2 linked regions of the Homo sapiens genome follow. The protein of the gene in region 1 purifies or fractionates together with the protein of each later gene. This does not show direct contact. Each region holds a gene or a part of one and is shown on either strand. Other genes may lie near its edges.

Region 1 (3,584 bases):
CTCTGGGACATCCGGCGTCCCGACCGGTGCGAGAGGATGTTCACAGCCCACAACGGACCCGTCTTCTGCTGCGACTGGCACCCCGAGGACAGGTGTGGCATGGGGGTGCAGGGGCAGTAGGTTGACAGTAAGCTCTCACTGCCTCAGATCCATGAGACAGTCCGGAGCAGCAGAGCGGGGGGGTCCCCTCTCTGCAGGAAAGGCCACTGAGGGTTTGGGTGGACCTTCTTCCCACAGGGGCTGGTTGGCCACTGGAGGGCGCGACAAGATGGTGAAGGTCTGGGACATGACCACGCACCGTGCCAAGGAGATGCACTGTGTGCAGACCATCGCCTCGGTGGCCCGTGTGAAGTGGCGGCCAGAGTGCCGCCACCACCTGGCCACGTGCTCCATGATGGTGGACCACAACATCTATGTTTGGGACGTGCGCCGGCCCTTCGTGCCAGCTGCCATGTTTGAGGAACACCGAGACGTCACCACGGGAATTGCCTGGCGCCACCCCCACGACCCCTCCTTCCTGCTGTCTGGCTCCAAGGACAGCTCGCTGTGCCAGCACCTGTTCCGCGACGCCAGCCAGCCCGTCGAGCGCGCCAACCCTGAGGGCCTCTGCTACGGCCTCTTCGGGGACCTGGCCTTCGCCGCCAAGGAGAGCCTCGTGGCTGCCGAGTCGGGGCGCAAGCCCTACACTGGCGACCGGCGCCACCCCATCTTCTTTAAGCGCAAGCTGGACCCTGCCGAGCCCTTCGCAGGCCTCGCCTCCAGTGCCCTCAGTGTCTTTGAGACGGAGCCAGGTGGCGGCGGCATGCGCTGGTTTGTGGACACAGCTGAGCGTTATGCGCTGGCTGGCCGGCCACTGGCCGAGCTCTGTGACCACAACGCAAAGGTGGCTCGAGAGCTTGGCCGCAACCAGGTAGGTAGGTGCTGAGCCTGGGGGTCCCTGGGCCACGACCTCAGGGCAGGGGCTGGTTCCTCCGTCAGCTGCGCTCACCCCACCTCAAGCTCCGCAATGGACTCCAGCCAGTCGCACCAACAGGCCTTGCCTTGGTAGCTGAGGGTGTCAGGATCACACAGGGCCAGGGCTCCAGGGTGGGCCAGACCCAGGACTGTCCTCTGAGGGGCGGGGGTCTCGGGAGTCGTGTGGCTCAAGCTCTCTGTTCTTCCCCCCTTGCTTCTGGAGCTCTCCAGGCACCAGCAGCGGTGGAGCCGTGAGCTGCCGTTCCCATGCCCATCTCTAGCTGCCCCGCAAGTCCCCACTGCCCAATTCTGTTTTCCTCTGTGCTGCTGTAGGGCGGGGACCGGGGTTTTTGTCTTTCCCATGAGCCTCAGCTTTCCTACCTGGGGTGGGCCTGGACATTGGGTACTGAGGGCAGCTGAATGCTGAGGGCTTGTGACTGTCCAGGCAGAGAGGGACCTGCATGGGGTGCTGGGTGTCCAGGACGCCCACAAGTGACCAGTGCCCGCCCCTAGGTGGCGCAAACGTGGACCATGCTGCGGATCATCTACTGCAGCCCTGGCCTAGTGCCCACTGCAAACCTCAACCACAGTGTGGGCAAGGGTGGCTCCTGTGGCCTCCCGCTCATGAACAGGTAGATGCCGGGGGCAGCTCTCCCCAGGGGCTGGGGCTGCTCGAGCCCACCCACCCATGGGCCCTTCCTGCCCCCAGTTTCAACCTGAAGGATATGGCCCCAGGGTTGGGCAGTGAGACGCGGCTGGACCGCAGCAAAGGAGATGCACGGAGCGACACAGTTCTGCTCGACTCCTCGGCCACACTCATCACCAATGAGGGTAGGCTGGGGTGGGTAGGGGTGCTGATGGGAGAGGGGTGGGGGTGTCCCAGACGACCCTGAATGCCCGCCCCATTGTCGGGCAGATAACGAGGAAACCGAGGGCAGCGACGTACCTGCCGACTACCTGCTGGGTGACGTGGAAGGTGAGGAGGACGAGCTGTACCTGCTGGATCCGGAACACGCGCACCGTGAGTGGGGGTCCGGGCAGGGTGGGGTTCAGAGGCGGATGGAGGACAGACTCAGAGCCTCCGCTGGTCCCTGCCTTCCAGCCGAGGACCCTGAGTGCGTGCTGCCGCAGGAGGCCTTTCCGCTGCGCCACGAGATCGTGGACACGCCTCCCGGGCCCGAGCACCTGCAGGACAAGGCCGACTCCCCGCACGTGAGCGGCAGCGAGGCGGATGTGGCCTCCCTGGCCCCCGTGGACTCCTCCTTCTCGCTCCTGTCTGTCTCACACGCGCTCTACGACAGCCGCCTGCCGCCCGACTTCTTCGGCGTGCTGGTGCGCGACATGCTGCACTTCTACGCTGAGCAGGGCGACGTGCAGATGGCTGTGTCTGTGCTCATCGTCCTGGGTGAACGGGTGCGCAAGGACATCGACGAGCAGACCCAGGTGTGTGGTGGGCGGGGCCTCCCCCCTGCAGCGCCGCCCCTGGCACCCAGATCCTGACTGCCGGGCGCTCCCTCCCCCAGGAGCACTGGTACACTTCCTACATCGACCTGCTGCAGCGCTTCCGCCTCTGGAACGTGTCCAACGAGGTGGTCAAGCTGAGCACCAGCCGCGCCGTCAGCTGCCTCAACCAGGCCTCCACCACCCTGCACGTCAACTGCAGCCACTGCAAGCGGCCCATGAGCAGCCGGGGCTGGGTCTGCGACAGGTGGGGCAGTGGGGTCGGGAGGTGGGGCAGGGGCCTGCAGGCAGCGCAGCAGCCCCCGCTGAGGCACCCTCCCTCCCGCCCGCCCCCAGGTGCCACCGCTGCGCCAGCATGTGTGCCGTCTGCCACCACGTAGTCAAGGGTCTCTTCGTGTGGTGCCAGGGCTGCAGCCACGGCGGCCACCTGCAGCACATCATGAAGTGGCTGGAAGGCAGCTCCCACTGTCCCGCAGGCTGCGGCCACCTCTGCGAGTACTCCTGACGGGGCATCTGCTGGGCTTGCCCGGGCGGCCGCGTGCAGAACCCCGCCTGGTCTTGTGCCCGAGACGGGCGGAGGCTGGAACTTGAGACCTCAATAAAGGAAGTAGAGCCGCTGTCGGCACTGCGTGTCACCCCATAGCGCGGCGGGCTCGCCGTAGGCCCGCGGGGCAGCTGGCGGGCGGGGGCTTTCGGCGGGGTTGTCGCCATGGTAACCGGCGGCGCCCATAGTCGCTCTCGGGGCGGCCTTCCCAGTGCCTCCCGTAGAGGCCTCTTCCGGGGCGGGCCAAAGGAGGTCACTTCCGGGGTCCGTCCCGGTTCCCGGCCGTTGCCACGACGACGAAGCTGCCGGCCAATGGCTGGCGGATGGGCCCAAGGTTCCCGGCGTGCAGCGCGGCTGCCTGAGGGCGGCAGGCTCATGGCGCCGGCGTCGCGGTTGCTCGCGCTCTGGGCGCTGGCGGCTGTGGCTCTACCCGGCTCCGGGGCGGAGGGCGACGGCGGGTGGTGAGCGGCCCGGGAGGGGCCGGGCGGTGGGGTCACGTGCGGCGGGCGGGGCGCGGGCTGACCCAGCTGTGCCCGCAGGCGCCCGGGCGGGCCGGGGGCCGTGGCGGAGGAGGAGCGCTGCACGGTGGAGCGTCGGGCCGACCTCACCTACGCGGAGTTCGTGC
Region 2 (3,907 bases), on another chromosome or scaffold:
TGGCCTACATCCATAATTGAAGGAAATGCTAAATATCAGAGTCACTGAAAATGCATTTTTTTCCCCCTGTCCCAATTCATCAACCCCTGAACTCTATTCACAGAACCCTTGGAGATCCACGGCACCCAGGCAAACCCACAAATACGTGAAAGGCAGTGAGCTGAGGGAAAGCAGTAGAGATGTGGCCATAAAAATGAGCCAGGACTTCCTCAAGAATCTCAGTAGGGAGCAGGGCAGGTCAAACATTTGTAAATAATCACTGAACACGTGCCACGGGCATATAGGCAGAACAATGGGATTTATAAAATGATAGCATTCTTACATTATTCTTACGGTGATGCTTTTGTGACACTTTAGGTCATACTGGCTAAACTTGAACGAAATGGTACTGTTTACCACTTTTAAAAGTAGCAGTAGCTGCCTGCACTAAAGACTTACTGTGTCCTGGGCCCTGTGTCAGGGCCTTGCATACACTAGCTGGATAGGAGGTAGCATTGGCCCAATTTTGAGGATGAGCAGATGAAGGCTCTGAGAGAGAAACTGAGTCACTTGCCCAAGGTCTTCTGGTGGGTACACATAAAGTGGCAGAGCTGAGATTCACACCTGTATCCACCTGTGCCCTTAACAGCATCATCCCTGGGGACGTCCGCTGAGGACAGCCAGGCTGGCTGGGATCCCAGCGTCCTCTCCGCTAAATGTGCTTTGGGGTTGCTCTGAATCTGGGCTCCCATGCTTTGCTCCCACGCTTGAAGCAGGGCCTGAGAACCCACACCATTCCTGGAGCCCTTCCCTGGGCTCGCCAGCACTTACCCCCTGAGGTCGGCGATAAGGATCTGCCCTCCATTGCGCACATCAAAGATTTTGACGGACCTGTCTGATGAGCAGGTTGCCAGGCGGGTGCCATAGTAGTCCATCTGGGCGTCGTGCTGCAAAGGGAGGACAGCTCGGGAAGCCTGCAGGCTGGGTGGGTGGGTGGGTGGGGTGAGGGCTGTCACTACACAGAGTCTAGTTTGGACCAGAATCTCCCTGAAATCAATCTGATCTCAAAGTATCATCACCCTCAGGCAGGAAGCTAGCATGTGGACATTCTCACTTCACCTATGGGCAGTGTCTCTCTGAAATGGACAAAGCAAGCCATGCCCAGCTGGTGTCACAGACCCTTTACATACCTCAGGGAAGGGCTCTTCCATTCCTGTTCCGCAGGGTGGGTATGGGAGAAAAAAAGTTGGCCTAGCTGCCCTCTTCTTCCTCCATCCTCTCAGGCCCTATTCAGTTCTTAGGCTCTGTGGGCTAAAGGGGAATACCCCTGGGTTCAGCTCAGCCCTAGCACCTGATGCTAATGCATGGGAGCAGGCCAAAGGAGTGGGCCTCTGACTGCCTGGAGTCCCCAGTCAGGTCTTCTGTGATGCAGCTCTGGCCTGCACACAGGGTTCCATTCAGATATTTGGGCTCTTTCCAGCCCTGGCCCTGGATCCTTTGTGGACCTTTGTTTTGGGGCTTCTGCTCGACCTTTTCCCTAGTAGTGTGCCCAGAGCTTCCCAGACTTTCCACCCAAGGAACACAATGCCTTAAGTGTCGCTGCTCTCACCACTTGTGAACCGAATTCCTTGATGCTGACTGAGCATGCAGAACTAGGCCTGGCCCCTACCTGCAGATCCTTGTCCGCAGGGTGATGGTCTCTGAGGCACCATGCCTCCTGCACCACTGAACACCCTGGTCCCTTCTGCTTGCTGGCCCTGCCTATTCCAATGGATGTCCCTTTCCCCAGCTGTCCCACCCTGGGAGTTTCAGGACTATCAGCTGCACTCCCATGGCCACCAGGGGCAATTATGCCCATTCAAAGGCACTCATTCTGTCTGGCTCAGATGGGAATTCTCACCTCCCTACGCAAGGAACACATCCTGATTTTTCTTTGGGAACTCCCTCCACTGTATCAGGCCTTGGTTTCTTGGAGGGCAGGCAGTAGAGGAGTGTTTCTGAAGCACTTCTCATGCTTCTCAGTGGAAGGAGGCAGGACATAGTACCTTTCAGATCTAAATCCTATCTCCTTAGTTTACCTGCTGTGCAAACTTTGAAAACACTTCATCTCCTTGAGCTTCAGTTTCCTTATCTTTATTATTTACCAACATCCTATGGGCCTTAGTTCCCTTATCTTTAAATAAGGCTAAAGATAGCATCTGTCTCAACAGTTGTTATGAAGGTTAAACAAGATATTGAATGAAAACTCACGCCTGTAATCCCAGCACTTTGGGAAGCTGAGGCGGGCGGATCACCTGAGGTCGGGAGTTCGAGACTAGCCTGACCAACATGGAGAAAACTTGCCTCTACTAAAAATACAAAATTAGCTGGGAGTGGTGGCGCACGCCTGTAATCCCAGCTACTCGGGAGTCTGGGGCAGGAGAATTACTTGAACCCGGGAGGCGTAGGTTGCGGTGAGCTGAGATCACGCCACTGCATGCCAGCCTGGGCTACAAGAGCGAAACTCCATCTCAAAAAAAAAAAAAAAAAAAAAGAAAAGTACTTAGCATGGGGCCTGACACTCAGTGAGCATGCAAATGTTTGTCATTACTACTTGGCCTCATCTAGTTCTCAAACCAAACTCATACGAGTAGGTAGCATATCCATTATTTTTCCCGTAAGTAAATTGAGGCTGGCTCAGAAAAGTTAAGATATTGGCTAGGGAGTCTCAGACTGGGTCTTCCTGCCCATGATTCCATGCTATCTCCAAGGAGGTGTGGTCTTACAGCTAGACCACTCATGACTGAATCCAGAGAACATATACAACTCTGGGACCAGACAACCTCTCAGAAACCCAAAAGCAACTGTTGGTGGACAGGTTGTGAGGGCAAGAACCCTGACATGAAACACTGTCAGCCAGCTGTCCTGGGTCTTGCTCAAAGGCTGCTTGGCCCTGAATGAAGCAGAGTCTGTGTTTTTCCTGCGGTAGACTTTAACCTCTGGACCTTCTCCTGCAGCCCTGTCCTCTTATACTGAGCCTTGTGTTTACCTCTCAGGAAATGCCCTGAGTGTGGACTTCTGGTTCAAAGGGCCTTGTCTGGCCTATTGTCTTGGTGGTTTGACTGGGCTCTGCCTGGGGCTTTCACTGTGGCTGCCCTCTGCCTTTGTATTGAGTCATCTTTCTACACTCTCTTCTTTTCACCCCCCTTTCCAGTGGGGCTAAGAAGTGACAGCAGGAGGAAGACAGGTGGGAAGACTATTGTCAAGCCTCCGTACCCACTCAGCCTTCATCCGAGAGCAGGTTATTGTATTGGCTGGAAGACTGACAGCCTAGAACTACAAATTATTCCCAGGTTCCTCCCAGCAGAGAGTGATTAGACTGCCACAGTCCTGACAACTCAGAGGGCACTGCTAGGGAGCCTGCCATACCCCGAGATTACAGGCTGATAGGCAACCACTGCAAAGCCACCCTGGATCCATGAATGATCAACAGAAAGGGGTAATGAAAACCCCAAATTGCTTCCCTCCCACAAAAATGCCCATGTCCACACCCCTCCAGGGAGGGTGATATTAATACTTACAATCATGTCCTCATGGGAGGTATCCACAGTGTTAATTACTGACACCTAGAACCAAAGATATCACTGGTAAATTAACTCATGGCAGTTAGAATACAACCATCTCAAGTTCTTGACTGCATTTGTTTGTTCACTCACTCATTCATTCATTCATTCAGTAAGCATTCATTCTAAGTACCTTCTTTCTGCCAAGCACTGTGCTAGGAACTGGATATACAGACACAAATAAGAGGAACTTTTTGCCCTTGAGAAGCTCGCGAATAATGCTAGTGTCGCAAGATAAATTATTTAATGGTGGTTTGTGTGTCCTGTAGGAGCCTGAGGGGCTGGGGTGGTAGACACGAATTGAGCCCTAGATGATGGGTAGGAAT

The links.
Region 2: the proteins of WDR24 (region 1) and SEC13 purify together in Homo sapiens (affinity purification with mass spectrometry; 7 studies listed by BioGRID and IntAct, with this or other methods). This does not show direct contact.

Annotation. Positions count from the first base shown.
Region 1 is NC_000016.10:684,070-687,653, reverse strand, and holds the end of WDR24 (GATOR2 complex protein WDR24), read left to right. Parts: coding exon 1-92; intron 93-237; coding exon 238-910; intron 911-1,467; coding exon 1,468-1,586; intron 1,587-1,663; coding exon 1,664-1,785; intron 1,786-1,870; coding exon 1,871-1,975; intron 1,976-2,056; coding exon 2,057-2,397; intron 2,398-2,477; coding exon 2,478-2,662; intron 2,663-2,751; coding exon 2,752-2,920; 3' UTR 2,921-3,032; downstream 3,033-3,584. Other genes in the region: JMJD8 (jmjC domain-containing protein 8 isoform 1 precursor), read left to right, coding at 3,335-3,420, 3,499-3,584. UniProt on the Homo sapiens protein: Catalytic component of the GATOR2 complex, a multiprotein complex that acts as an activator of the amino acid-sensing branch of the mTORC1 signaling pathway. The GATOR2 complex indirectly activates mTORC1 through the inhibition of the GATOR1 subcomplex.
Region 2 is NC_000003.12:10,314,511-10,318,417, forward strand, and holds part of SEC13 (protein SEC13 homolog), read right to left. Parts: intron 3,585-3,907; coding exon 3,540-3,584; intron 927-3,539; coding exon 811-926; intron 1-810. UniProt on the Homo sapiens protein: Functions as a component of the nuclear pore complex (NPC) and the COPII coat. At the endoplasmic reticulum, SEC13 is involved in the biogenesis of COPII-coated vesicles.